Homo sapiens: one gene and its partners. The protein of the gene in region 2 interacts with the protein of the main gene of each other region in a biochemical or structural test. Each region holds a gene or a part of one and is shown on either strand. Other genes may lie near its edges. The genes, in order: TAB1, MAP3K7, USP29 and IKBKB.

What was found.
Region 1: of the proteins of MAP3K7 (region 2) and TAB1, one has a biochemical effect on the other in vitro, tested with the Homo sapiens proteins (4 studies listed by BioGRID and IntAct).
Region 3: the proteins of MAP3K7 (region 2) and USP29 form a complex in vitro, tested with the Homo sapiens proteins (2 studies listed by BioGRID).
Region 4: of the proteins of MAP3K7 (region 2) and IKBKB, one has a biochemical effect on the other in vitro, tested with the Homo sapiens proteins (5 studies listed by BioGRID).

What each region holds. Positions count from the first base shown.
Region 1 is NC_000022.11:39,416,780-39,423,802, forward strand, and holds part of TAB1 (TGF-beta-activated kinase 1 and MAP3K7-binding protein 1), read left to right. Parts: intron 1-11; coding exon 12-98; intron 99-931; coding exon 932-1,070; intron 1,071-1,952; coding exon 1,953-2,066; intron 2,067-2,739; coding exon 2,740-2,851; intron 2,852-5,047; coding exon 5,048-5,192; intron 5,193-7,023. UniProt on the Homo sapiens protein: Key adapter protein that plays an essential role in JNK and NF-kappa-B activation and proinflammatory cytokines production in response to stimulation with TLRs and cytokines.
Region 2 is NC_000006.12:90,549,061-90,556,083, reverse strand, and holds part of MAP3K7 (mitogen-activated protein kinase kinase kinase 7), read left to right. Parts: intron 1-2,497; coding exon 2,498-2,626; intron 2,627-3,904; coding exon 3,905-4,035; intron 4,036-5,534; coding exon 5,535-5,616; intron 5,617-7,023. UniProt on the Homo sapiens protein: Serine/threonine kinase which acts as an essential component of the MAP kinase signal transduction pathway. Plays an important role in the cascades of cellular responses evoked by changes in the environment.
Region 3 is NC_000019.10:57,115,182-57,123,005, reverse strand, and holds the start of USP29 (ubiquitin carboxyl-terminal hydrolase 29), read right to left. Parts: upstream 3,022-7,824; 5' UTR 2,777-3,021; intron 682-2,776; 5' UTR 532-681; intron 1-531.
Region 4 is NC_000008.11:42,266,916-42,274,319, forward strand, and holds the start of IKBKB (inhibitor of nuclear factor kappa-B kinase subunit beta), read left to right. Parts: upstream 1-4,386; 5' UTR 4,387-4,554; intron 4,555-4,642; exon of another isoform or gene 4,643-4,808; coding exon of another isoform or gene 4,809-4,818; intron 4,819-5,167; coding exon of another isoform or gene 5,168-5,185; coding exon 5,186-5,290; intron 5,291-7,404.

The DNA of each region.
Region 1 (7,023 bases), on a different chromosome or scaffold from region 2:
TGTCCCCCTAGGCCTTCGATGTGGTGGAGAGGAGCTTCCTGGAGTCCATTGACGACGCCTTGGCTGAGAAGGCAAGCCTCCAGTCGCAATTGCCAGAGGTAATTTCCCCAGCCGACACCCAGGGGAGTCAAGTCCAGGCCCAGCTTTGCAAGGAGCATGGACTCATCTACTTTCTTGACATTACTGGGCCAGAGCAACAGGCGTTAGGGAGCAGTTCCTGATGGGTGACACTGGTGTGTGGCCACAGGTGAGGGACCTCGCTGCTCTGCTGTGGGCAGCTGCATGCTAAAGCTCAGCAGTGTCTGGGCAGTGGTGGACATGAGGAAGGGCTTTTCCCAGTCCTTCGTCCTGAATGGGTCCCCGCCCTTGTCAACCACCTGCTCACATCGCCTACTGCCACCTGCAGCGCTTACCTCTGTGCTGTGAGTTCGGTCATCTCCAGCTTTCTGGAAGAACCTTAGCCTGGAGCTGTAGCGAAGGCTTCATCTTGGCTGTGCCATGGACCATCTGTCTGTCTGTCCCCCGGGCCCTCGGATCTTTGCTCTTAAGAGCAAAGGGAGGCCGGGCATGGTGGCTCACGCCTGTAATCCCAGCACCTTGGGAGGCCGAGGCGGGCGGATCACAAGGTCAGGAGATCAAGACCATCCTGGCTAACATGGTGAAACCCCGTCTCTACTAAAAATACAAAAAATTAGCTGGGCGTGGTGGTGGGCGCCTTGTAGTCCCAGCTACTCTCGAGGCTGAAGCAGGAGAATGGTGTGAACCTGGGAGGCGGAGCTTGTAGTGAGCCGAGATCATGCCACTGCACTGTAGCCTGGGGGACACAGCGAGACTCCATCTCAAAAAAAAAAAAAAGAGTAAAGGGAGTGGAGAGGGCTAGGAAGATGGTCCAGAGTTCTGTCCTGCCCTGACCCTCTGTTGATGGTTGTAGGGAGTCCCTCAGCACCAGCTGCCTCCTCAGTATCAGAAGATCCTTGAGAGACTCAAGACGTTAGAGAGGGAAATTTCGGGAGGGGCCATGGCCGTTGTGGCGGTCCTTCTCAACAACAAGCTCTACGTCGCCAATGTCGGTGAGCCCCCTCCTGTCCCAGGGCAGGGAGGACTGGGGAGAGGTCAGCCACAGGGGTCGGTGCATTATTTGACAATCTGCTTTCCAGACACTTCACGCACTTTAAACCCAGGGTCTCCTGAGACCGTTGGGTATGTCCCTCTCCACAGTGACGCCTCAGTCCCAACTGGAAGGGAGAAAGGACGGGATGGGAGACAGGTGTCCTGGCCTTTAGTCCCTATTCTGCTTCTTAACTCATTCTGGACGAGTCGTATCCCATTCTGGGTGGCCTTGGGGGCCGCTGCTTCTGGAAGAGGTTACCTGGCCATGAATAACCAACCAGTATCCCCATGAACAGCTGCGAGATGGGGCTAGGTGACAGGGACATTGGGGTTTGTGAGAAGACCAGACAGGTGCAGGTTTCAGTAGAAAGGACTCTGTAGAGACCCTTCTGATGATGCTGCCTTTTTTTAATACTCCAGTGGAAAATTTTCCACAATATAGAACAATAGAGTGACTGATATTTAATGAACATTCATGCGCCCATCCCCAATCCCAGCAGTTATCAACTGTGGCCAGCCTTCTTTGTCCCCACGTTCTCTATTTTGAAGCAAATGCCAGACACTGTATCATGTTATCTGTAAATATTTCAGTCTGTATCTCTAGAGAAGAGGTCTGTTTTATTAAGATCATAATCCTATGATTACACTGAAAAAGTTAAACCCAATTCTTTCGTATCACCAGCTGTCCCTAACTGGTGACTCACCCCGTTGGTCTGAGCCTGTTTTGCCCATTTCAGGTATTTCCATGTGTGAAATGCCTGCCTTTTCCCTCTCTGCCTTCCCGGTATGCCCTATTTCTCTCTGTGTGTAGTCTTTGCTTAGCTGTTCACATTCTGCCACAGGTACAAACCGTGCACTTTTATGCAAATCGACAGTGGATGGGTTGCAGGTGACACAGCTGAACGTGGACCACACCACAGAGAACGAGGATGAGCTCTTCCGTCTTTCGCAGCTGGGTGAGTGGGGAGAGTGGGAGCGGAAGCTGATCCCCATGGGCTCACCCTTCGCCTGCCTTTGGTGGTGGGGTAGAGAGGCGTGTGGTAGAGGGGCTGTGATCTTGGGCTCCCCAGCCAGCCTGCCTGGGGTTCATTCCCAGCACTGCCGCTTACTGGTTGGTGATTGGAACTTAAGTTTTCTGTGCCTCAGATCCCCCGCTGTGTAATGAGGATAATAGTAACCTACCTCGGGATGCTAGGAGGATTCAGTTAGTGCATGTGAAATGCTTCCTGGAGTGCCTGGCACACAGAAGACACTTACTGTTATTGGTGGAGACTGAAAGAGGCCAAAGAAGTCCAGGGAGCCCAGCTGCTGCTGAGCTGCTCCTTCCCTTCCCAGTGAGCTCCAGGCAGATGTGGGGCACACGGGATGGGCAGGGAGACGGCAGGCAAGCTGCTCCGTGCCAGGTGGTGCCTGGAGGACGGGCTCTGAGTGAGGTGTGTCGTGATGGGCGTGGGGACTGAGGACACCAGGGACTTTGGGTCAGCTGCTCTCCCAGGTGCCCTGGTGTTGTCTTCATTTCCTATTCAGTGGGTCCTTATTGCCTTCTTCCCATGACTGTGTCTCTGTCCCCTTCTTTTTGTTCCTCTTTGTGAACAAGAAGCAGGATTGTTGCACTGTTTCCCTCCGTAGGCTTGGATGCTGGAAAGATCAAGCAGGTGGGGATCATCTGTGGGCAGGAGAGCACCCGGCGGATCGGGGATTACAAGGTTAAATATGGCTACACGGACATTGACCTTCTCAGGTAGGTGCCAGCCCAGCTGTCCCCTGTGCTTGAAAGAACAGAAGGTCCTAGGGAGGCCAAGATGGGAGGATTGATTGTGCTGGGAGGTCGAGGCTGCAGTGAGCCGTGATCATGCCACTGCACTCCAGCCTGGGCAACAGAGCAAGACCCTGTCTCAAAAAAAAAAAAAGGTCCAGAAGGCCTGGGGCAGACGCAGACTGTAGGCCCCAGTGACACATGTGCAGTCAAAGTAGTTCAGAGCCCAGGCAAACTCTTTCTTCCTCCCAGAGAGGTTGGTTTGGGGCAGGTTAGGCCCAGCAGGCCAGGAGTTGGGTACTGTAGAAACAAGGGGTGGAGTTGAGCTGGGCCAAAGCTGAGGGCAGCAACTAGTGCCACAAGGGAGGCAGGCGAAGCCAGAGTTGGCATGGGATGGACAGACCAGGCCTGTTGGTCGGTGCTGCCCATGGCTGCAGCAGAGGTGTGAGATGAATTGTGTATTTCCCTCTGAGGACACCTCCTCTGGACATCACCCCAGCGCTCATGGCAGCAGAATGGGCAGTCATCATCACACGGCCAAGCCCGTGCAGAGCTCTGGATGTACCTTCTTTTATGCATTCCCTACTCAGGCCCCCTGAGGCAGTCACTGCCATCACCCCAGAGGCATTTTCATAAGAGGAAACTGAGGCATGGAGACATCAGGCAGCCCACCCTGGTCATGGGGCTTGAACACAGGCAGCCTGAATTTGGAATATGTGTCCTTAACCGTCAGGTAACCTGTATGTGAAGTGTTGGTTGGGGAGATAGGCGCGTCCACTTGCCTGATGCCAATCATGGCATTTAATGTCATGGCCAAGGCTGTTCCCAAAGCCAGAGTTCCCATCAACAGAGGCCTCATGGCCTAGAAAGTGCATGTTAGAACTCCTTGCCCTCACGCGATCTAGGCAACTGAGTGTCGAATATTTGTCCCTAATTTGTGGGGTCCTGTTTCCTTTATTGGAAAGGACATCCATAGTTTAAAACACTTCAGACAGTGCTGGGGTCTATACAGGGAAAGGAAGTCTTCCTACACCACACTCTAGGACTCGCTGCCTCCCCAGAGGCTGCTAGTTTCTTGTGTATCCTGTTCCAAAATCTGGCCACATGCACATATACACACACGGTGTCTCTGTGTGTGTGTGTGTGTGTGTGTGTGTGTGTGTGTGTGTGTGTTTGTCCTGGGGGCCAAGGAGCCTGCATCCTTTTCGGAACACCCAGGTGCTGGGGTGTCTCTCTCTGTGTGTGTGTGTGTGTGTGTGTGTGTGTGTGTGTGTGTGTGTGTTTGTCCTGGGGGCCAAGGAGCCTGCATCCTTTTCGGAACACCCAGGTGCTGGTGTGTCCTGCCCCTCCCAGGTGCTGGTGTGTCCTGCCCCTCCCAGGTGCTGGTGTGTCCTGCCCCTCCCAGGTGCTGGTGTGTCCTGCTCCTCCTTCTTTTCTTTTTTTTTAAACCCTAAGGTGTAATTGGCATATGCAAAGCTGTGCCTATTTCATGCATACAACTTGATGAGTTTGGAGATATGTTTACACACCCCTCACTGCTATCATTAAAGGTGCTCATCTCTTCATTCTGCTCACCTGCAGTTAGGATGGCGTCATTCTGTGTAATAACCGCTCCCAGGGCCCAGCCCTGGCTGACGGACCCTCAGGAAGTTCTTAGACTCCGCTCTTCTGGATGGTGTTGCCAGCACCTCCTCATGTACTTACCTCCATGTGCACACACATGTGTTGGCATGTAATGACTCTGACCCCAGTCACTAAAGGATCCCTGTACACATGGAGAGTATCTGGGGTCTCAGCCATCTGTTTTGGAAAAGCCCAAATAATAGCAAGAGGCTTGGGCTCCCAGGGATAATCCCTCCCTCTTGCTGTCCCACACCCTGCCCTGCCACCACCGGACCCTGTGAACAGGACGTATGGAACAGGCCAGAATCGGGCATTCAACCTTTGCCATCCTGACCTCAGCTGCCTGCCAGTTTTTATGGCCTTCCAAGCTTTATTTTAGCAGCTGCTGTAAGACGATGGGTCTATTTTTCTGACCTTCTCTTTCTCTCTTTTCTTTTCCTCTTGTCAGGTTGTGTGTTTTATTTTACATTCTGGGCATAGATTCCTCCCCTCAGCAGAATCAGCATCCACCTGCGGGCTGTTCCAAGCAAAGCTCTTCCTTCCACTCTCTCCCCATAGCGCTGCCAAGTCCAAACCAATCATCGCAGAGCCAGAAATCCATGGGGCACAGCCGCTGGATGGGGTGACGGGCTTCTTGGTGCTGATGTCGGAGGGGTTGTACAAGGCCCTAGAGGCAGCCCATGGGCCTGGGCAGGCCAACCAGGTGAGTTGGGCCCAGCCACGCCCATGGCCGGAGAGCGTGGCTGGCCTGCATGGTGATGTGCTCACCCTGCCTTCTAGCACTGTGATTCTCGGAGGCCGTCACCAGACATCTCTGGGTTCAAAGCTGGGGGAAGGAGAATCCCAGAGCTCTGAAAACACCCATCCCACCCAAAAACTTGACTCATTTTAGGCTTGAAGCAGTGCCAGTCCTCAGGGCCTGAGCAAGGTCTGAAGGGAAGAGGGGGAGATGGATGTGAATTGCTATGGGCACGGCATTACTCTGAGACGGCCAGGAAGGGGCCAGGGCCAGGAGGAGAGCACAGAAAGAGATGTGCAGAGTCCTTCCCACACCCATCACTTCCTGCCAAGGGCCTGACGGCTTTACTGCCCTCCCTGAGTGGCAGACAATTTATAGTTTGCTTCTCATTTCTTTTTTTTTTTTTTTTTTTTTTTTTTGAGACAGCGTCTCCCTCTGTCACGCAGGCTAGAGTACAGTGGCATGATCTCGGCTCACTGCAATCTCCGCCTCCCGGGTTCAAGCAGTTCTCTGCCTCAGCCTCCCAAGTAGCTGGGATTACAGGTGTCTGCCACCACGCCCAGCTAATTTTTGTATTTTTAGTAGAGACAGGGTTTCACCAGGCTGGTCTCCAACTCCTGACCTTGTGATCCACCCACCTCAGCCTCCCAAAGTGCTGGGATTACAGGCGTGAGCCACCGCGCCCGGCAGTTCACTTCTCATTTCTACAGTGAGGATGGTAACATCTGCCTTTGTGAGATCGCAGTGAGGTTAGGCGTGGTAGACACAGGCCCTCAGCCAAGAGTTGCTTATTTTTCTTATACCTTGGAGTCACCAAAGTGTGACTTCAAGACAGTCACGTTAGGGATGGTCTCAAAGGAAAACTGTCTTTCCCTGACCTCCTTGGATTGCTGACTGGCTAAGATAAGTTCAGTTTGTGTTCCTCCTCCTTTCTGTGATTCTTGTAGGAAGATAACCTTTTCTGCTTTGACTTTTTTTTTTTTTTTTTTAAGACTTGCTGTGTCACCCAGACTGGAGTGCAGTGGCGTGATCACGGGTCACTGCACCCTCAACCTTCTGGGTTCAACCGATCCTCCAGCCTTAGCCTCCTGAGTAGCTGGAACTATAGGTGTGTGCCACCACACCTGGCTAATTTTGGTTGTTTTCTTTGTTTTGTTTTTTTGGTAGAGACAGGGTCTCACTGTATCGCCCAGGTTAATCTCAAACTCCTGGTCTCAAGTGATCCTCCTACCTTGGCCTCCCAAGATGCTGGGATTGTAGGCATGAGCCACTGTGCCCAGCCTGCTTTGTCCTTTTTAATTAAAAATCATGTATTGGCCGGGCACAGTGGCTCATGCTTGTAATCCCAGGACTTTGGGAAGCCGAGGCAGGCGGATCACTTGAGGTCAGGAGTTCGAGACCAGCCTGGCCAACATGGTGAAGCCCCGTCTCTACTAAAAATACAAAAATTAGCCGGGTGTGGTGGCAGGCACCTGTAATCCCAGCTACTCAGGAGGCTGAGGCAGGAGAATCGCTTGAACCCGGGAGGTGGAGGTTGCAGTGAGCCAAGATCGCACCACTGCACTCCAGCCTGAGCAACAGAGCAAGACTCTGTCTCAATCAATCAATCAATATCATGAGGAAAAAGTCTTCTTTAAAATTTGAAAATTAATTTTTATTTCAGTAGCTTTTGAGGTACCAGTATTTTTTTGTTATAGGGATGAATTATGTAGTGGTGAATTCTGAGATCTTAGTAAACCAGTTATTCCAGTAGTGTACATTGTAAGTAATGTATAGTGTTTTATAGTGTACATTG
Region 2 (7,023 bases):
TTTTCCGTCTTGTTTCAGCTCTCATGCTGTAAGCAGGTGTCCTTTTTTGTGCTGTTCAGAGCCCTTTTTCATTTTTGTGATTTTTGTTGGTAATTTTGCTACTTAAAATGGCCCTCAAGCATAGTACTGCCTAAGTACAAGAAGGCTATGATGTATCTTAACAGACAATATACATATGTTAAATTATCTTCATTCAGGCATGAGTTACAGAAATGTTGACTATGAGTTCAATGGTAATAAATCAACAGTATATATGAATAAGGTGTCTTTAAGCAGAAATACGCATGAAACAAGGCTATATATTGATCAGTTGACAAAAACATGGTGACCAGAGGCACACAGGAACCTACCCCTGTATTTTCCTTAGGAGCAGTGATTCAGTGTTCACTAATTCAGTGTTCTCAGAAACTTTATAGAACATAAATACCAGGAATAATGAGAATTAACTGTGCTTTTGTATTGGTTTCCTAGCAATTAAAAATTGAGAGCCCTAAAGTTTAAATGAGGATGCCTTAAAAAGAATGCAAATAGCTGGGCGCGGTGGCTCAGGCCTGTAATCTCAGCACTTTGGGAGGCTGAGGTGGGCGGATCATGAGGTCAGGAGATCGAGACCATCCTGTATAACACGGTGAAACCCCATCTCTACTAAAACTACAAAAAATTCGCCGGGCGTGGTGGCGGGCGCCCGTAGTCCCAGCTACTCGGGAGGCTGAGGCAGGAGAATGGTGTGAACCCGGGAGGCGGAGCATGCAGTGAGCCGAGATCGTGCCACTGCACTCCAGCCTGGGTGACAGAGCAAGACTCCATCTCAAAAAAAAAAAAGAATGCAAGTAATTGGACAGAAATAAGATACTAAGAATTACAAATAAATGTCAAGCTTATATGTTTACCTTCTTTTATACCTCCATATGTCACTGAAGTTTTAAAAGAGTTGTCTGTAAATTATATGCTAGGTTTCTGTATAAAAACATCAAATTATCTTTTAAATGAAAGAAGTTGAACTGAAGGTATGTGATTTGTATGTTAGGAAGTGTAAATGCCCATAAAATTCAGATACATTCAGTTAATCAGACTCTGGTTATAGCTTATTTCTTTCAGTTTTGATGACTTTAAAGGGTTTTCTGTTTGTTTTTAGCCACCCCAGAGGAAGAGAAATTGCAATGCAACTAGTCACCTGAGTGGAGCTCTTTTGCCCTAAAATTCAATTTAGTAATAAATGAATAATCAGGTGTTATATTACACAAGATTAAATAATGCCTCCTGTTTCATATACAGAATGTATACATTTGACATTGTTTTAAAATTATTTACTTATTTAATATACCTTTATGTGAGTTAAAATGACCCAATGTTACTGTATGTGGAGAGCAAAAAGATTTGTTTATACAAAAGATTAATTTTATTGCTCTAGACAACCCTTAATTGTCTAGAGCAACAAAATGCAGACTGTTAGGCTGTGTAAGTTTCTTCATTTCTGAAAGATGTCAGTCAACCTGTAGCCCAAATTAGACTGTAGCATGGTTGTAGTGCTATATTACAGTGTACTGCTTAGCATGTAAAGCTATAGCTATAATAATTGTTCATTCTTACAGTGAGTTGAGTGTTTGTTTGTTTTTGGGAGATTATGACGGGTGCTTATTGTGCTGGCTGATTCAACCACCTACTTAGTTTGTAAATTTTGCTGTGTAACTCAGGTTATCCATAATTTTCGTTACTTACAACGTAATGTTTAAGTTTATAAATTAAGAATTTCCCTTCACCATATATTGAGGAAAAAACTGTAACACTAAATTAGAAAGTTCTTCTGCTTTGATAGCAGAGTAGTGCTGTCTGTCAGAGTGGGAAGAAAATTTAAGATTAAAATGTAACAGAAAGGAGGCCAGGCACAATGGCTCATGCCTGTGATCCCAGCGCCTCGGGAGGCCAGAGCAGGAGGATCAGTTGAGCCCAGGAGTTTGAGACCAGCCTGGGCAACATGGCAAGACCCCATCTCTACAAAAAATTTAAAAAATTAACCAGTTGTGCCAGCGCATGCCTGTAGCCCCAGCTACTCAGGAGGATCACTTGAGCCCAAGAGTTTGAGGCTACACTGAGCTCCAGCCTGGATGAGAGTGTGAGATCCTGTCTCAGAATAAAATAATAATAAACAACATAAAGGAATGTACAGATGTTTCATACTCTGCCCCAGAGAAAGTATCAGTCTAAATACATAAAAGTCAAGTCCTGTGCCTCTTGATGAAAAAACTGCCTCTTGATGAAAAAAGATAGAAAATAACTGAGTTTCTGAAGTAGTTTTTTAGTGTATTGTTGATACTTAATTCATTTAAAAATGTACTTGTTGAAAAGACAAAGTACTTCAGAAAGAGTAGTTTCTTAGTTCTACATGTGACAGCCTCATTTTTATCCCTGATACCCATTCTCAAAATTTAAGCCATTGTTTCTGTAAGTCATGTGGAAAAATAGTCTTTAGGTTATATACTACCTTTTTTTTTTCTAGGTAGTAATTACAGTGAAAAATGTGACGTCTTCAGCTGGGGTATTATTCTTTGGGAAGTGATAACGCGTCGGAAACCCTTTGATGAGATTGGTGGCCCAGCTTTCCGAATCATGTGGGCTGTTCATAATGGTTCGTAAAAAGAAATTTTTCTTAAAAGTACTTTTTGTGTTTTCTACTTGGAAGACTACTCCTGTCCCCTTCCCTAAAGAATATCATTTATCTCTAACATTAAAATGTACAATTCTTTGTTAAGAGACTGCTTTGCTATTATCAGACTCTGCCCTGTCCCTGCCCCAGAGTCCAGCAGAGCAGGATTGAGAGTAGTCCTGGTCTACACATGCGGCTGAGGATGTTCACTGGCTCCGCTGATTAGGGAAAGGCCATCAGTACGCAACCTAGACAGTTGGCTCTCTCTTAGGGAGAAGCATCAGGCTGGATCATGGAAAAAATAAAAAAATACATACATAAAATCTCTGACATGGTTAATATAACTGGAGAGTTATAGCCCTTTTCTCCTGAAGAAGCAAGGGCCTCATCAAGGAGAAGAAGCAAAGAATAATAATGCTTCACATATTTTTCCTGTTTATATTCTCACCCACCCTTAGAAGGTGAGTACTGTTGCCTCATTTTACAGATTAGGAAACTGAGGCCTAGAGAGGTTAAATAACTTGCTTAAGGTCACAAGATTAGTAAGTGGTAGAGCTGGGATTCAAATCCAGATGCTTCTGACTTGAATGCTCATATCTTAAGTCATATTGACTTATGGACTCAATGTCCTTGCATCTGTCCTGTTTCTTTTATAGTTCTGGTAATGTTGTTTTTAACCACATATGATGTTAGAATGCATCCTCTTCATTAGTAAAGTTACTTTACATTTGCTTGGGAAAATAGCTTTTCATGAAGGAAAATTACTTACCTTCTTAATTTTAGCGCCACTCTTAGTTATTTCATTTCTATGCCTTGTTTATAATCATGTGACTAATGGCCATTTTTTACATTATTCCACAAGTCTAAAAACAAATGTCTGCCTAATTATTTAGGTCATTCATAGATTTATCAAACAGTACCATCATCTGAGTAATCTTAGCTGTTTTTACCAGTTTCCTATACTGCCTTTAATATTACTACCATTAGTATCATTGTGGAGACTGTTCAGCATTGACCAGGACAGCTTGCTTGCTTGCTTTCTATCAGTTGTCAGTAAATAATTGAACGTCCGTGAAGTAAAGAGTAAAAGAACTAACTTGTTAATTGATAAAATTACAAAGCACTTTTATTACTCCAAATTACAGATCTTAAACTACAAGATCTATAAAATAAATACCACTTTGGAAATACGTACAAAGAGTTTGCATCATTCTTTGGGTAAATACATTCTTCCCCCCTTCCTCTCATTTTCAATTGTAGGTACTCGACCACCACTGATAAAAAATTTACCTAAGCCCATTGAGAGCCTGATGACTCGTTGTTGGTCTAAAGATCCTTCCCAGCGCCCTTCAATGGAGGAAATTGTGAAAATAATGACTCACTTGATGCGGGTATAATCCTTCTTTTGAGGGGCTTTGGATTTAGGGGAATTTAATATGTGCTGAGTTTTAATGGAATTTTAAAAGGGATGTTATTACTATATTCTGCTTTATATATTGCTATGTTTTCTAAGTGAGAATGGGCATTTATTACTCATAGTCAGAAGAGGAAACATTTCGAGAGGGAAAATCTAGTTCTTTATCACTGGAAAGATGGCTAGACTAGGTTTCTAGACTTGCTTTTTTCTTTTTGCTTACATTAGTGGACAAGTATGTTTGTCTCTGGGCCTGTTGCCTCATTTGTAATGTGGGAGAAACTGAAATAGATAGTCTCTAAAGCCATCACAGGACTTGGATATATTAATATTATGACTTCAATACATGATAAACTAAATTTTACATTTTTCTGATACCAATTTTCATCAAGCATTTAGTCATTTATGCAAGGCAATAGGTTGCATTCTCAGACACATTTATTTGAGTGACTTTTACTATTTGGCCTATTTTCAGGTTTTTATATCCCAGTAAAAAGTTAAACTTTCTTCTATTTAGAAGAACCCTTTTAAATGATTATCAAATTTTCCTAGTCTGTGAATCAAGCGCCTTTAGAATTATTTGGAATATTTTACGCCTCTGGTTTTTGGTACATTAACAAAAACTGTGAAGTGGTATCTTGGCTTTAAAAAGTTCAAATATCTATGAAAGTGCCTGAATTTTGAAACAGTTTGTTCAGTAGAAGAATCTTACAATCTCCTTAAATATAGACTAAGTAATTTCCTAAATGGTAAAACGTTGTTTATTCAATCTATTGAAAATTTCTTACGCAAAGCAGCTTGAACTAATCTACTAAAAGTTTACCATCGTATTTGGATACCAGTCATATATAGAAGCCTAGGCCTTAAAGGTGTGTGCATAAGAAAACAACTTAGTCTCTGTAGTCAGATTACTTAAAACTTTAGGATATATAAGTTATTGCAGTTGTAATTTTGCTTCTCTGTTCCTTGTCTAATTTGAGGAGAATACGTTTCCTTTTTTTCTCTAAATTCTAACATTTTTGTCCAGCAGATACTTTGAGTATTATGCCTCCAGTTTGTAGAAAGACATTCATAATCTATCCTCTTAATATTTAAAATGTTCTAACAATTATTCTATGGTATACTAGTCTCAGTCTTCAGACTAACAGTCACTGGAAGTTTACATCACTACTGTAAGAACATGAGTATGTTTTACATAATTATGAGAAATGATACTATTTTATTTCATATGTTTCTCTAGAGAAATATTTGCTGTTTTCTTCAAGACTATCTAGACTCCAATGTAAGCTAGATTCTTAGGTAGGTGCATGGCATTGATCAAAGTTGAAATCCAAGAGTACATTATTGTAATCTTTGTAAAATAAAAAACTTAGGCACCTACAAATTTAGTATATAACTTAGGGAAAATAAAACATTAATCAGGATTTAATTTGTATTAAGGAAATTTTAAGCTGTGGTTTACTTTTTTATATATAGTACTTTCCAGGAGCAGATGAGCCATTACAGTATCCTTGTCAGTATTCAGATGAAGGACAGAGCAACTCTGCCACCAGTACAGGTAAATGGATAGATTGGAAGAGTATTGACTTGATTTTTCTTTCATCTCTATTCCCATGAAATTATAATCAAGAAGTAATGAATAATGTCCCCATTTGCATTTTAATTCCTTCATTTCATATGATTGACTGCAATTTGAGTTTACAGGTGCGTCATTCTTCATGTAGGTACCCTGATTAAAGAGTTATTGAAGACCTGCTTCCAAGTCTTAGAATTCCTACATAATTATGAATAAAAAGATGGCATATTGTATTACAGTGAATGTCATTCTTAACTTGAAAAATCACTTTTACATGCATACTACTAGATCAAGTAGTATTAGAAATTATTGTAAATGTATTTAAACATTTCTTCATCACGAACACCCTAGTTTTTGTTCTCTTCTACAGAGGCTCTGATTTAAGAAGCTATGTTAAAAGTTCCTTAGTTTTCCGAAATGTGAAGTAGTAGTGGGACATGTAATTTGTGGTCATCAAAAAGATAGTAGAAATAATACTGTAACTTAGAAATATTGTACTTCTCAAAATATAGTGGCATTATAAGCATTTCATTATTAATTGAAACTTAAAGATATGTGTGTGTCTATATGCACATGTATTTACCCTGCATTTATTGAAAAATACTTTTACTGATCTATTTCTCCCACCTCAAGAATAGTTTTATTTATTTTAAGATGGTTACTGCTTGGCTAGTTATTCTCAAATTCCAGTTTTACTGAAAATATTTTGAGTTGCTCTGAATTCTAAAATGTACTTCTCTAAAATTCTATCATTTGTGTCTCCCACGTCCTCTAAACTCTCTCTTCATTTCCTTACTGTGACCTTGAATTTTTTGAGCCTCCCACCTTTTCACTGGTCCTCAGTCCTCTTAGGTCCTTTTTTCTTTCTCCCTCCACTTAATTCCAATCAACTATTATAATTCTTTTGGGAATAATTTTCATCTTTCTAGCCTCTCTCTCAAGCTTGCTTGGCTAAACCACAAGCCTAATGAAAGCTGACACTCGGCTTACTCCTTGCCTGTACCAATGCAGCTGAGTGTGGCTGGAGATAGCACAGGTTTACTATCCTCACGTGCATGTTTAGTGCTATTGGACAGTTGTACTGTATTGTAGTTCATCTCTTTCCTCCTATATGTCTTAATTTTATACTGTAGCCTCTCCTCAGACTTCAAACACCTCCTCGCCACTCCTCACTCTCAGCTGATCTTGTTTGCTCTTTCTCTGAGAAAATTGGAGTAATCGGAAGACAGCTTCCACAACATCTGTGCCCATCTACTCTGCTTTCTTCTGTTACTCTGGCTAAACTATCCATACTTCTGGCCAAAGGTGTACCTTTCTGCCTGTGCATTATATCCCATCTGCTCCTCTGAGCAATTCTCCCCTGTCTCTTGCATCATCAGTTTTAGCTTT
Region 3 (7,824 bases), on a different chromosome or scaffold from region 2:
CATGATTATAATTAATGTGTCCTCAGTTTCCTGAGAGATCCTAACATAATATATAGAGTGTGAAGAAAAGCCCCTCCATTTCATCCTGTTGCTGCTGATAAATTATTGCCTCTTTAGGGAAACTTCACCCTCACTGGACCTTAAATTTAATGAAAGGAGGAATCACAAAAATTAGAGATCATCAGCTTTTCCCTGAGCTGAGTTCAAAAGACAGGTAGGCTTCATCATTTTCATTTTGGATGCATGCTCTTTTCTGAAAATGCCAATATCCAATGCCACAGAAAACAGAAAACTATCCCCTCAAAATAAAAACCCAGAATCAGGATTTTCGAATTTACAATTCAACCTCATAAAGGGTAGAAGATGAAATTCCCCTCATCACAATATCTGACAATATCTTTAGGGCATTAAGTTTAGACAGACCCTCCTTCCAACACTCACACACACATACACACACACACACACACACACACACACACACACACACACACATCCCATCACCCAAACAAGCAAACCTTGAATGAAACTTACAGTTTGGAGAGCTGTTCTGGGTGAGTGGATGATAATTCTTTTTTCAGAAATGAGATCTTGCTATGTTGCCCAGGGTGGTCCCAAACTCCTGGCCTCAATCGATCCTCCAGCCTCAGCCTTCCAAAGTGCCTGGATTAGACTCCATAGCGCCTGGAGGAGAATGATGGAAGTTGAGTCTGACAGTGATTATGATGTTCCGACCTTTTATTCCCAGGTGGCTCCACCCATATCACGGGTTTTTCCAGGAAATACGTTTCTTGATTAACTTATCTCTGTGTAAGAGTTTAAAATATTTGTCTAGAAAAGGCTAGATAGTGACTTATTTTACTTTATTTCAATTGGTAATTAAAAACTTTTATTTAGAAATCATTGCAAATATACATAAGAATTGCAAGATTAGTAGAAATAACTTATATTCCCTTCACCCAAATTTACCAATTGTGTATATTTTGCCACATCTGTCTGCTTTCTCTCTCCCTCTTTTGATGTTCTATGTATCTATCTATCTATCTATCTATCTATTTTTTAATAGAGACAAGGTCTTGCTATGTTGCCCAGGTCTCGAACTCCTGACCTCCAGTAATCCACCCGCCTCAGCCTCCCAAAGTGCTGGGATTACAGGCTTGAGCCACCATGCCCAGACATGTTCAAGTCCCTTATATAACAGGATATACTTTTACTCCACTTAATGTTTACCTGTTTTCTTTGTAGTAACCGTGCTTTTTGTTTTATATATATATAATTATATATATATAACATATATGTATATATATAACATATGTAAGTACATATAACATATGTAAGTATATATAACATATGTAAGTATATATAACATATAAGCATATATAACATACATATAAGCATATATAACATATATAAGTATATATAACATACATATAAGTATATATATAACATATATAAGTATACATAGCATATATAAGTATATATAGCATATATAAGTATATATAACATATATAAGTATATATAACATATAAGTATGTATAACATGTATAAGTATATATAACATATATAAGTATATAACATAAGTATATATAACATATAAGTATGTATAACATATATAAGTATATATAACATATATAAGTATATAACATAAGTAGATATAACATATATAAGTATATATAATATATAAGTACATAACATATATAAGTATATAACATATATAAGTATATATAACATATATAAGTATATATATAACATATATATCCTACATTTTCAACACGTGTAACAAATGTGGATAGTTTCAAAAAGATCATTTTACGTTCTAGTAGTTACCCTGTTTGACCAAAGTGTAGTACTTTTATTTTTCTATTGCAGTGCATTTTCTTTTTTTTTTTTGGCGGGAGGTGAGGGAGCGGAGCGGGGATGGAGTCTCACTCTGTCACCGAGGCTGGAGTTTAATGGCGTGATCTCGGCTCACTGCAGCCTCTGCTTCCTGGGTTCAAGTGATTCTCCTGCCTAAGCCTCCTGAGTAGCTGGGATTACAGGAGCCCGCCACCACGCCTGGCTAATTTTTTGTATTTTTAGTAGAGACGGGGTTTCGCTATGTTGCCCAGGCAGTCTCGAACTCCTGATCCGCCCGCCTTGGCCTCCCAAAGTTCTGGAATTACAGGAGTGAGCCACCGTGCCCGGCCTTTTTTCTGTTTTTTTTTTTTTTTTTTTTTTTTTGAGACGGAGTCTCTCGCTCTGTCGCCCAGGCTGGAGTGCAGTGGTGTGATCTCGGCTCACTGCAACCTCCACCTCTGGGGTTCAAGTGATTCTCCTGCCTCAGCCTCCCCAGTAGCTGGGATTACAGGCACCCACCATCATGGCCAGCTAATTTTTGTATTTTTAGTAGAGACAGGGTTTCACCTTGTTGGTCAGGCTGGTCTCAAACTCCTGACCTCAGGTGATCTACCCGCCTCGGCCTCCCAAAGTGCTGGCATGACAGGCGTGAGCCACCGACCCAGCCCTTTTTTCTTTTATATAGTTTTTGAGACAGGGTCTTGCTCTGTTGCCCAGGCTGGAGTGCAGTGGTGCGATCATACCTCACTACACCCTCGATCCCCAAGGCTCAAGTCATCCTCCAACCTCTGCCTCCTGACTATCTGACACTACAGGCGTGGGTAATTTTTAAATTTTTTTGAGACATAGTCTCACTTTGTTGTCCAGGCTGGAGTGCAGTGGCATGATCTCAGCTAGCTAATTTTAAAATTTTTTGTAGAGATGGGTGGGGGGAGGGTCTCACTATGTTGCCCAGGCTGGTCTCCAACTCCTGGGCACAAGCGATCCTCCCGCCTCGGCCTCCCAAAGTGCTGGGATTACAGGCATGAGCCTGGCCAGCATTTTCTGTTTGAATGTTTTTACGTAACCGGAGTCGTCATGATGGAGGTACAGTTCCTTGGACTTCCGGCTCCCATGGCTCTGGAAATCTCAGCTCGGACCCGCCCCTTCCGGCGCCGACTCCCCTGATTCTCCTGGGAACAGAAGAGTTCTGGGCACAGCACGCTGCGTCTGCGCAGTGCCGGGCGCAGGCCTCCCGACCTACGGGTCTAGGTACGGGCTCTAGCGTGGCCGGGGCACATAGAGTTCCTGGCCTAGAGCTGGTGGGGCGTAACGGCAGGAGTTAGGGTTCAGAGAAAACCAGCCCAGGGGCGGGTTCATCCTGTTACCCATTCAGCCTCAAGCGAGGTGGGGTGTGGTAGGTGGGCTGGTGCTAGAAACCACGCCGGGAATTGTTAATAACAGTCATCCCGGCCGGGCGCGGTGGCTCACGCCTGTCATCCCAGCACTTTGGGAGGCCGAGGAGGGCGGATCACCTGAGGTCAGGAGTTTGATATTAGCCTGACCAACGTGGCGAAACCCCGTCTCTACTAAAAATACAAAAATCAGCCGGGCATGGTGGTGGGCGCCTGTAATCCCAGCTACTCGGGAGGCTGAGGCAGGAGAATCGCTTGAACCCGGGAGGCGGAGGTTGCAGTGAGCGGAGATGGCGCCACTACAATCCAGCCTGGGCGACAGAGCGAGACTCCGTCTCAAAACAACAACAAAACCCCCAAAAAAGCGGTCATCCTCCAGGTGGAAGAGACAGAAGAGAGGGTGCGGAAGAGACTTAAAAGTCTTAGGCCTTCAAGCGTGTTTGCCTCAGCCACCCGTGAATCCTACAGGAAAACTAAAACAACTCGGCCACAAGCCCCCAAGTCTTGGGGAAGCGGACGGTTTCCCAGCCGAGCTTTAGGAGGAGGCGCCGCGGGACCTCACGGGTGACGTCGTCCCCGGGGGTAGTTTGCGCAGAGGGTCGCTTTGGGCGCGCTTAGAGTCGCGTGGTGCCTGGGCCAGCGAAGCCCAGGTGCAGTCATTTGTGGCCCTGTCCCGGCGCGCGAGGGGCCAAGGCTGGTCGGGGGCCGGGTCCGCGCGGTAGCAACTGCGTCCTGCCAGCTTCCATCTCTCCCTCTGAGGGCCTGAGCGGCTGCCAGAGTCAGGTCTGCAGGCCGGGCGCTCACGCGTCTGTGCCCAGTGAGGCCCCAAGATGCTGGTGAGGCCTCGACCCTGACTGGTGTCCAGGCTCTTGACACTGTCGTGAGAAGGAATTCATGGATGAGCAGAACAAAGTGTGGAGATTCATTGCGACGGGAATAAGTACGTACTGAAGAAAGAAAAGTGCAGGCATACCACAGAGCATCACGCCCAGCGGGGTTTGGAGCTACCTTTAAATATTTATTTAACCAAGGGGTGGAATATTCATGAAGATTCTTGGAAAAAGGTAAACATTTCTTGGTACTGCGGTGCCACACATTTTTATACTAAATACGGGTGTTCCCCAGAGCTGTCACAGTGGGTGTGTGACTTAGTATGTTAATGAGCACATAATGAGAGGTCCTAGGTGAAACGGGTCGAATCCAGCACCATGTTGGGTCCAGTCGGCTTTAGCCAGCTTGGCCCACACCCTGGTTTTCAGAGTCTTATCCGCCCCTAGCTTACGCAGCGATTTCAACGGTTTCCTTTGCTAGTCATGTGAAACTGTTGCCTGGAATTTTCCGTTCTCCTGTGACCACCTTTATTATTCCTGTCTCAAGGGGCACCCCATTTGTGCCTATAAGGAGACTGCATTGGGACCAGGCTCCTGGCTGCTCATGGAGCCTCAGCCAGATGGTTGTGTGCCTGAGTCCTGTGTTCATTCCACAAACATGCAGCAAGGCTGCGTGGGTTGGAGCCCTGCCTCCAGCGCTTCCCTGCTGCATGACACTGGCAAGTTGCTTAAGCTCTCTGTACCCCATTTCCTCCTCAATAAGGCAGGGATGGTGATCGTACTAGTTCCAAAGGATTATTGTGAGAATTAACATAATACATGAGTTAACACGTATAAAATGCCTAGAACCTTGTCTTTGGATTTCCTCAAACATCCAAGGTGTTTGTACACTAAAGGAAGACACCCAACTTAATTTTCGATCTACAGACCTTGCATTATCTGCAAAATACCGCTGGCTTCTTGACACTGAAGTTATACAAATGTGCCATAATTTTCTTCACAAGTTTCTGGTGTATGTTGATGTTGCTTGAATTAAAACAACCCTGTGACAAGTGGTCTCGTGGAAGTCTTTGCACATGGTCATGCTTGTTTTCTGTGGCTGAACTTGTGGGATTACCTGAATCACCTGTAGGCAAGGTTGTCCCTGCCTCAACATGGTCCCTTCTACCCTTCACAAGACTTCAGTGTGCCCCCATGTCAGCTAAGGCAGAGATTTGGGGCTACGTTACTGGGTAGGGCATAGAGCCAACCTGGATTCTCACATGTTTGTGCTTCCCAAGGACTGCTCCTCAGCCCTCTGCCCTTCCTCAGGAGATGCAGGACATGACCAAAACCCAGATGAGTTTGCATTACTTTTTTTTTTGTTTGTTTTTGAGATGGAGTTTTGCTCTTGTTGCCCAGGCTGACTTGCAATGGCGGGGATCTAGGCTCACTGCAACCTCCACCTCCTGGGTTCAATTGATTCTCCTGCCTCAGCCTCTCTAGTAGCTGGGATTACAGGTGCCCACCACCACGCCTGGCTAATTTTTGTATTTTTAGTAGAGACGGGGTTTCACTATGTTAGCCAGGCTGGCCTTGAACTCCCAACCTCAAGGTGATCTGCCCACCTCGGCCTCCAAAGTGTTGGAATTACAGGCATGAGCCACTGTGCCCGGCCAGTTTGCATTACTTTTTAACTTGCCCTTACATCATTTTCCGGTTGTGTAATACATTTAACAAGCACTTATTGTGTATTGAACACTCACTTTTCTAGGTTAGTGATTCTCACTTGGTGGCAGTTTTGCCCCCAGGGGACAATTGGCAATGTCTGGAGACAGTTTTGGTTGTCACATGGATGCTTCTGCCAGGGTAGAGGCCAAGGACACTACTCAGCATCCTACAGTGCAGTGGATGGCACGCTCCCCACCCACCCCAATCTCCTACAAAAAGAGTTATCCAGCCCAAATGTCAGTAGTGCCCAGGCTGAGAAACCTTACTCTAGGTACAGGAGATGTGGAAGTGAACCTAGCCAACAAAAATCCCTGACCTCATGGAGTTCATGTTCTCCTGGGCCACATTCTAATTTAAGTATTTACATGTATTATCTGTTTATCCATCCAGCCTTCTGTATATTTGCATAGAAAAAATACCTGGGATTGGCCAGGCGCCGTGTCTCACGCCTGTAATCCCAGCACTTTGGAGGCTGAGGTGGGCGGATCATGAGGTCAGGAGGTTGAGACCATCCTGGCTAACACGGTGAAACCCCGTCTCTATTAAAAATACAAAAAATTACCCAGGCATGGTGGCGGGCGCCTGTAGTCCCAGCTACTGGGGAGGCTGAGGCAGGAGAATCGCCTGAACCCGGGAGGCGGAGCTTGCAGTGAGCCGAGATCGTGCCACTGCACTCCAGTCTGGGTGACAGAGCGAGACTCCGTCTCAAAAGAAAAAACAAAAAACCTGGGATTTTATTATTTGCCTACTGTTAAAGATAGTAACCTCTCGGAACTAGGATCTGGAGTGATTACTTTCATCTTTGTCACTTTGGTGCAATGTGTAATTATTTTCATAAGCATGTGTGATTTTTACCAAATAAAAGTGATTTTTCTCAAAACTGAAAAACGTTGGGATGTGCATCTGCAAAACTGTTAAGGGTGTGGCACAGGTGTTGTGACACAAATGTGTGTAAAAGGTACATTAAGAGTTGGGTGCAGTGGCTTGCACCTGCAGTCCCAGATACTTAGAAGTCTGAGGTGGGAGGATGGCTTGAGCCCAGAAGTTCAAGTCCGGCCTGAGAAACATAGTGAGACCCCATGTCTTGAAAAGAAAAGAAAAAGGTACAATAGAGCATCAAAGGCACAAAGAATGGAGTGTCTCTCCTGCCCAGGTATTTTCACTCAATCAAATTCTTTTTTTTTTTTTTTCGTGAGACAGAGTCTCACTCTGTCACCCAGGCTGGAGTACATTGGTGGGATCTGGGCTCACTGCAACCCCGCCTCCCTGGTTCAGGCAATTCTCCTGCCTCAGCCTCCCAAGTAGTTGGGATTACAGGTGTGCACCACCACACCCATCTAACTTTTGTATTTTTAGTAGAGATGGGGTTTCACGATGTTGGCCAGGCTGGTCTCAAACTCCTGACCTCAGGTGATTCACCTGCGTCAGTCTCCCAAAGTGCTGGGATTACAGGTGTGAGCCACTGCGCCCAGTCTCAATCAAATTCTTAATGGAATTATTTTTGGTAATTTGGAAAAATATTTGAAATTTTAACTTAGATAAATAAAGGGGCTAAAAGAAAGCCAGAGGAGGAAAAATTAGAGAAATTACCCAACAGAAATGAGTGGGATGATCCAAAGAACAGTAGGCTGGCCACCGTGTCTTCTAAAGCCAAAGGCACGAAAGACCGTGAACCCATTTTTAAGACTGCCAATTTATCTCTAGTGGGAAATCTGGGAGTATCTGTTAAAGTTTCAGATCCACACTGGTCCAGAAAATCTACCTCTAATGTTCTTTTGAAAAAGAACATTAACCGTGAGTGACTTTGACATCATAGTATACATACAAAGTGTGGTATGATAACTGCACAATGTCCCTGTGTGTATAGACCGTAGATTTAGCCAGATGTTTCTTGGTGAATATTTAGGTTGTTTCCAATCTTTTACCATTAGAAACCATTCTTCAGTAATTAATCATAATACTCAGTCCTTTTCCATCTTCACAAGTATATCCTGGGATACATTCTTAGAGGTAGACTTGCTGGATCAGTAGAGGTAGACTTAGAGGATTGCTTAGAG
Region 4 (7,404 bases), on a different chromosome or scaffold from region 2:
GGCAACCAGTAGCCCTCGGGGGCTGCTCTGTCTAAGGAGTAGCCGTTCTGTTATTCCTTTACCTTCTTTTTTTGTTTGTTTTTTTTTTGTTTTTTTTTTTTTTGAGGTGGAGTCTCGCTCTGTCGCCCAGGTTGGAGTACACTGGCGCGATCTTGGCTCACTGCAAGATCCATCCACCTCCTGGGTTCACACCATTCTCCTGCCTCAGCCTCCTGAGTAGCTGGGACTACAGGCGCCCGCCACCATGCCTGGCTAATTTTTTGTATTTTTAGTAGAGACGGGGTTTCACCGTGTTAGCCAGGATGGTCTCCATCTCCTGACCTCGTGATCCACCTGCCTCCCAAAGTGCTGGGATTACAGGAGTGAGCCACCATGCCTGGCCCCTACTTTCTTAATAAACTTGCTTTCACTTTACTGACTCGCCCTGAATTCTTTCTTGCGCGAGATCCAAGAACCCTCTCTTGGGGTCTGGATCGGGACCCCTTTCCTATAACGGTACTGTACTGTGGTACTAATTACTGCAGAACAAATCCGTGTGTGATTTTATATTGCCTGGCCTTTGTCTGTCCTTACTTCATGGCTCCCTGTGGGTCTTAAAAACCCAGTAAGATTCTAAGTGCCTCTGATGAGATCTCATTCCATTGCTTGGATCCCCTGGGTCAGTAATGCCCTGGGCTGAGCTAGGCACTCTGGCTGGTCAGTATTTCTTGATTTCCCTATAGCACAGCTAAAAAGCACACTCAGCCTCAAAGCAGGAAGAAAAGGGGACATTTTTCTGCTGAATCTGAAAATATCTTTTGTAAACAGTCTGCTCATATCTCCAGAGCAGGACAGAAACCAGATGCAGGCAGAGATAGCTAAACATGTCTTATCTGGATAGAAAATTGAGCTTAAGATAATAAATATCTTGGAATATGATAAAACCCAGAGGCCCCTTCCTGGTCCATGATTAATTGAAGAAAAAAAAAGCCTAGTAATACGTGACCTTATCAGAGAGATTTATGTTCAGTTGAAAGCCAAGTTATTTTGAGCTGAGCAAAATGAGGATTCAAATTACAGGAGCGCAGAGTAAACTTTTGGCATATTAGCGGACATCTTGGTAAGTTTCTCAGGACAGTGTTTTTCAGAGATGACAGGATTAAAGAGAAACCTTTTATGACATTGTACTGGAAATGGACTCTCCACAGTGCCCAGCACATATAGGTGCTCAATAATTTTTTTTTTTTTTTTTTTTTTTAGATGGAGTTTTGCTCTTGTCGCCCAGGCTGGAGTGCAATGGCACGATCTCGGCTCACTGCAACCTCTGCCTCCTGGGTTCAAGCGATTCTCCTGCCTCAGCCTCCCGAGTAGCTTGGATTACAGGCACGTGCCACCACGCCCAGCTAATTTTTTTGTATTTTTAGTAGAGATGGCGTTTCACCATATTGGCCAGGATGGTCTTGATCTCCTGACCTCGTGATCTGCCCGCCTTGGCCTCCCAAAGTGCTGGCATTACAGGTGTAAGCCACTGTGCCTGGCCTAATTTTTGTATTTTTAGTAGAGACGGGGTTTCACTATGTTGGCCAGGCTAGTCTTGAACTCCTGACCTCAAGTGATCTGCCTGCCTCGGCCTTCCAAAGTGCTGAGATTACAGGGGTGAGCCACCACACCCGGCCAAATTTTTTTTTTTGAGATGGAGTCTCGCTCTGTCGCCCACGTTGTAGTGCACTGGTGCGATCTCCACTCACTGCAACCTCCAGCTCCTGGGTTCAAGTGATTCTCCTGCCTCAGCCTCCCAAGTAGCTGGGATTATAGGCACCTGCCACCACGCCCAGCTAATTTTTGTATTTTTCGTAGAGACGTGGTTTCACCATGTTGGCCAGGCTGGTCTCAAATTCCTGACCTCAAGTGATCTGCCTACCTTGGCCTCCCAAAGTGCTGGGATTACAGGCATGAGCCACCTCACCTGGCCAATAAATATTTTATTTAAAAAATTTACTTATTAAGCAAACACTTATATTGCACTTAGACAATGCAGTCACTATTCTACGTGTGTTACAACTATTTACTCATGTTCCTGTTGCTTCTGGCCTTGAGGCTGAGCTTGCCATTTAGCTGGGAGTAATCAAGAAATACCAGGCCAGAAGCGGTGGCTCACACCTGTAATCCCAGCACTTAGGGAGGCCAAGGCGGGAGGATTGCTTTGAGGCCAGGAGTTCAAGCCAAGTCTGAGCAACATAGTGAGACCCCCATGTCAACAAAATAAAATTTAAAAATTAGCTGGTCATGGTGGCACGTGCCTGTAATCTCAGCTAGTGGGGAGGCTGAGGCGGGAGGACCCCTTGAACCCAGGAGGTCAAGACTGCAGTGAGCCGTGATCCTGCCACTATACTCCAAAGTGGGCGATAGAGAAAGGCCCTGTCAAGAAAGAAAAAAGAAAGAAAAGGAAAGAAAAGGAAAGGAAAGGAAGAAAGGAAAGGAAAGGAAGAAAGAAAGGAAAGAAAAAAAAGAAAGCTAGCAGCTGGGAAGGGAAGGGGAGGGGAAGCGAGGGGAGGGGAGGGGAGGGGAGGGGAGGGGAGGAAAAGGAAAGGAAAGAAGGAAAGAAGGAAGGAAGGAGGAGAGATAGGAAGGAAGGAAAAGAAGGAAAAGAAAGAAACCAAGTAGCCGGGAAGGGAAGGGAAGGGGAGGGGAGTGGAGGGGAGGGGAGGAGAGGGGAGGGGGAAGGAAGGAAGGAAAAGAGAGAGAGAGAGAAAGAAAAAGAGAAAGGAGAGGGAAGAGGGGAGAGGGGAGAAACCGAGCAGCCAGCGTGCCTAGCACAGCCCTGGACACCATTGACCCCTATGTTTGGGTTGAGATCTGTCCCTGAGTTAACTTCAACCCCAGGGCTGTCAGGCACTGCTGCTATCAATACCTCATTTGTCCCTCACAACAACTCTGGGGTGGCCTCCTTTCTATGACTTTCTATGAGCCCGCCTGTCCCCCTGCTATTACAATGAAGCAGATGAAACTGCTGATCTTTGTTACTGATGTTTTGGCTGTTTTCAATTTCCAAAAAATGACAATTAAATGCAATTCAACCTAATATTGCCTAAATTTTAAAAGAGGAAATAGGTTCTCACAGTGTTTAAGTAACCAGCCCCCGTGCCTCAGAGGTAGTCAACAGCAGTATCTGGATTCAAAATCCAGTTTGCCTCCTTCTGAACTTCTTAACATGCTACTTTTAGCCACGGATTAAGAACCCGGGAACCAGTTGCTAGGGTTTGAGTATCAGCTCATCTACGTAGCAGCCATGTACCTTGGAAATAATAATAATGCAGACCAGGTGCAGTGGCTCACAGCCTGTAATCTCAACACTTTGGGAAGCCCAGGCGGGTGGATCCCTTGAGCCCAGGAGTTGGAGACCAGCCTGGGCAACACAGTGAGTGAGACCCCGCCACCAGGTATGGCGGCCGCGCACCTGTAGTCAGGAGAATCACTTGAGCCCAGGAGTTGGAGGTTGCACTGAGCTGTGATCACACCACTGCACTCCAGCCTGGGTGACAGAGCGAGATAATAATAATAATGATGATGATGATGCAGTATTTTCCAATTTACAGGGTTGCCCTGAGGATTGAATAAGGAAATCTAAGTACAGAGATTTAGAACAGAGCCCTGCACTGTGTAAGCACTCTATAGATGTGAGCTATTATTATCATCTTCAGGTTCCTTTGGTAGTTTTTTTCTGCTTGAATAAAATATAGCAACACACACACACACCTCCTTTGTCCACTAATGTAATCCCATAAAACGGAGAAACTCAGCAGTGAGGACATTCTGATTCCAAGCAGGAAGGAGATGAACGATGAACCTCAGGCTGAGCGCCTCACGGTTTCCTCATGTCACCGGGGCTGGGGGTGCAGTTTGGCTTCACACTGCTAGGTCTTTTCTTGTTTTTAAGGGGGCAGGGGCTGTCACCTCTGAGGAGTCAGCTGTGATTGATCCTTCTCCACACCCAGCCAAGCACCCCCCAGACAGGGGAGCGCCCGCAGTAGGGCGGTAGGCAAGGGCAGTTCTAGCCAACAGTCCCTAAATCATCCCAGCGGGGGCGCGGGAAATTCCACCGAGGTGAAAGCCTAGGGGGCCGGGTGAAGAAATCCCCATACCCGGGCCCAGAAACCGCTCCAGGTGGAAGTAACTTGTCTAAAGAGAACAGGGTGTAACGGGGGTCATTTCAGGGCTGTTCTTTTAAATCGGTGAGCACGGTCTGTCTACTTTCCCTCAGTTGTCTAGAGACCACACGCCACCCCCGCCCCGGGGGAGTCGCCCGGTCGAGGGTCCCGGGACAGGCGCAGCACTCGCAGCATCCGGACCTGGTCTGCCTCGCGCCGGGAGCGGCCTCTTTAAGAGCGGCCGCGGCCAACGTGCTCCGTGACGTCAGAGCAGGAAGTGTTTGAGGAAGTCGCGCCGCGCTGCCCGCGTTAAGATTCCCGCATTTTAATGTTTTCAGGGGGGTGTCATAGCCCCGGGTTTGGCCGCCCCAGCCCCGCCTTCCCCGCCCCGGGGAGCCCGCCCCCTGCCCCGCGTCCCTGCCGACAGGTGAGTCCCCCTCGTGGGTGCGGCCCGGGTGCCACCTGCAGGCCCCGCCGCCCCGCTGCCTGCAAGGCCCGGAAGACCCCTCTGTGCCGCTGGGAAGTCGCAGCTTGCGGACTGGGGAGCGTTTCACTTGTGCGGGTTGGAGTTCGGGAAGCCGGGAGAAACAGCTCTCCCTGGGGTGGCTTCTTGGGGGTGGGTGGCTTTGAGGGGAACCTGCGATTTATGGGAACATTGTAAAGAAACACGTGACCTCGGCGATGCTCAGAAGTAGGTTCTGCCCCTGCCACCTCGGGCAGAAGGCGGGCAGGCCCGGGCGCCCCTGGTGGAGTCAGCTGGGGATCCCCTCGCTAGGGCAAGGGCGTGGGCATCGCCTCCCTCGGTGACTTTCTTCCTTGCCTGATGCCACAGCAACCGGATGGGGGAGGGTGAGAGGGACAAAAGTTTGCCACAAAGTTTGGACCAACCAAACACATTGGTTTCTTTACAAAATAAAAAACCAGTTGTATTTTTCTTCTCTCCCATTCAAGAGCAGTGGTATCTCTTGCCTTCTCCATCCCTTTGAGCTCCATTTTTTTCTTAATCCTAACCTTTTTTCCCCATCCCAAATTGCTTATAGAGTTAGCACGACATCAGTATGAGCTGGTCACCTTCCCTGACAACGCAGACATGTGGGGCCTGGGAAATGAAAGAGCGCCTTGGGACAGGGGGATTTGGAAATGTCATCCGATGGCACAATCAGGTAGGCCCTCTGTGCAGCTTGGGGAGGGGCGGGGAGCCAGGCCCCCTCCTCACTGCCTCCACTTTCTCTGATCCTGCTGGGCCAAGGGCTCACCTTTGGCTTTGGTCATCTTGGGACAGTGAATAGGGGGACTGGGAAGAGGGCTTCAGGACTTCTGAGCTGACTCCAGGTTAGTGGTCTCCATGCTTTATTGACTATGTCACCTAAATAAATAGTAAAATAAAGTTAAGCTCTTAGTCTCTATTATATATATATGGTAACAGTAGAATATCATGTACTAATATATACTGATATTATATGTTATAAAACATATAGAAATAGGAAAATTTAAAGGATGAGACTAAATAAATAATTTAAAATATTTTAATTCCTTGAGGCCAGTAGTTCAAGAGCAGCCTGGGCAACATAGCAAGACCTCGTCTCTACAAAAAAGGTTTAAAAATTAGGCAGCCAGCTGGGCGTGGTGGCTTATACCTGTAATCTCAGCACTTTGGGAGGCTGAGGCAGGCGGATCACGCAGTCAGGAGATGGAGACCATCCTGGCTAACACTGTGAAACCCCATCTCTACTAAAAATACAAAGAATTAGCCAGGCTTGGTGGCACGTGCCTGTAGTCCCCAGCTACTTGGGAGGCTGAGGCAGGAGAATCGCTTGAACCCATGAGGCGGAGGTTGCAGTGAGCCAAGATTGCGCTACTGCACTCCAGCCTGGGTAACAGAGTGAGACTCCGTCTCAAAAAAAAAAAAAAAAAAAAAACCTTAGGCAGCCTTGGTGCGTACCTGTAGTCCCACTACATTGGAGGCTGATGTGGGAGGATTGCTTGTCCAGGAGTTTGAGGCTGTAGTGAGCTATGATTGTGCCACTGCACTCTAGCCTAGGTGACAGAGTGAGACCTTGTTTCAAAACCATTTTTTAAAAATTATTTTAAATGTCGGGTGCAGTGGCTTACACCTGTAATCCCAGCACTTTGGGAGGCCGAGGCAGGAGGATCACTTGAGGTCAGGAGTTTGAGACCAGCCTGGCCAACATGGTGAAACCTCATCTCTACTAAAAATACAAAATTAGCTGGTGTGGTGGTGCATGCCTGTAACTTCAGCTACTCAGGAGGCTGAGGCAGGAGAATCGCTTGAACCCAGGAGGCAGAGGTTGCAGTGAGCCGAGATAGTGTCACTGCATTCCAGCCTGGGTGACAGAATGAGACCCTGTCTCAAAAAATATATATATATATATATATTTAAAATATTTGCTAATTATGATGTCTTCCCAGTATTGCTTGCGATACTGCACGGCAAAAAATAAGCAGATCCACATGAAAGTGAGAATTCATTTAGAATGATGATGAAAATCCATATTTCAAATAATTAACATTTTTTTAAATTTTGTAGAGATGGGGTCTTGCTATGTTGCCCAGGCTTGTCTCAAACTCTCATCCTCAAGCAGTCTTCCCGTCTTTGCCTCCCAAAATGTTTGGATTACAGGCCTGAGCCATGGGACCTGGCCTCAGCTGAGGTTTTTTTTTTATTTTTTGTAGTGATGGTGGTCTCACAATGTTGTCCAGGCTCGTCTAGAACTCTTGGCCTCAAGTGATCTTCCTGCCTTGGCCTCTCAAAGTGCTGGGATTACAGCCATGAGTCATTGAACCTGGCCTGTTTTTATTTTTAATTGACACATAATAATTGTACATATTTATGGGGTACAGTGTGATATTTTGATACATAATGTGTAATGATCAAATCGGGGTAATTGGCGTGTTCATCACTTGAAACACGTATCCTTTTTGTTGGAAACAGTCAAAATTCTTTCTTCTGGCTATTTTGAAATATACAATATTTTTTTTTTTCCGGAGACAGAGTCTCGCACTGTTGCCCAGGCTGGAGTGCAGTGGTGTGATCTTGGCTCACTGCAACCTCCGCCTCTTGAGTTCAAGTGATTCTCCTGCCTCAGCCTCCTGAGTACCTGGAATTACAGGTGTGCACCACCATGCCAGCTAATTTTTGTATTTTTAGTAGAAATGGGGTTTCACCATGTAGGCCATGCCGGTCTCAAACTCCTGACCTCAGGTGATCTGCCCACCTCAGCCACCCAAAGTGCTTGGATTACAAGCGTGAGCCACT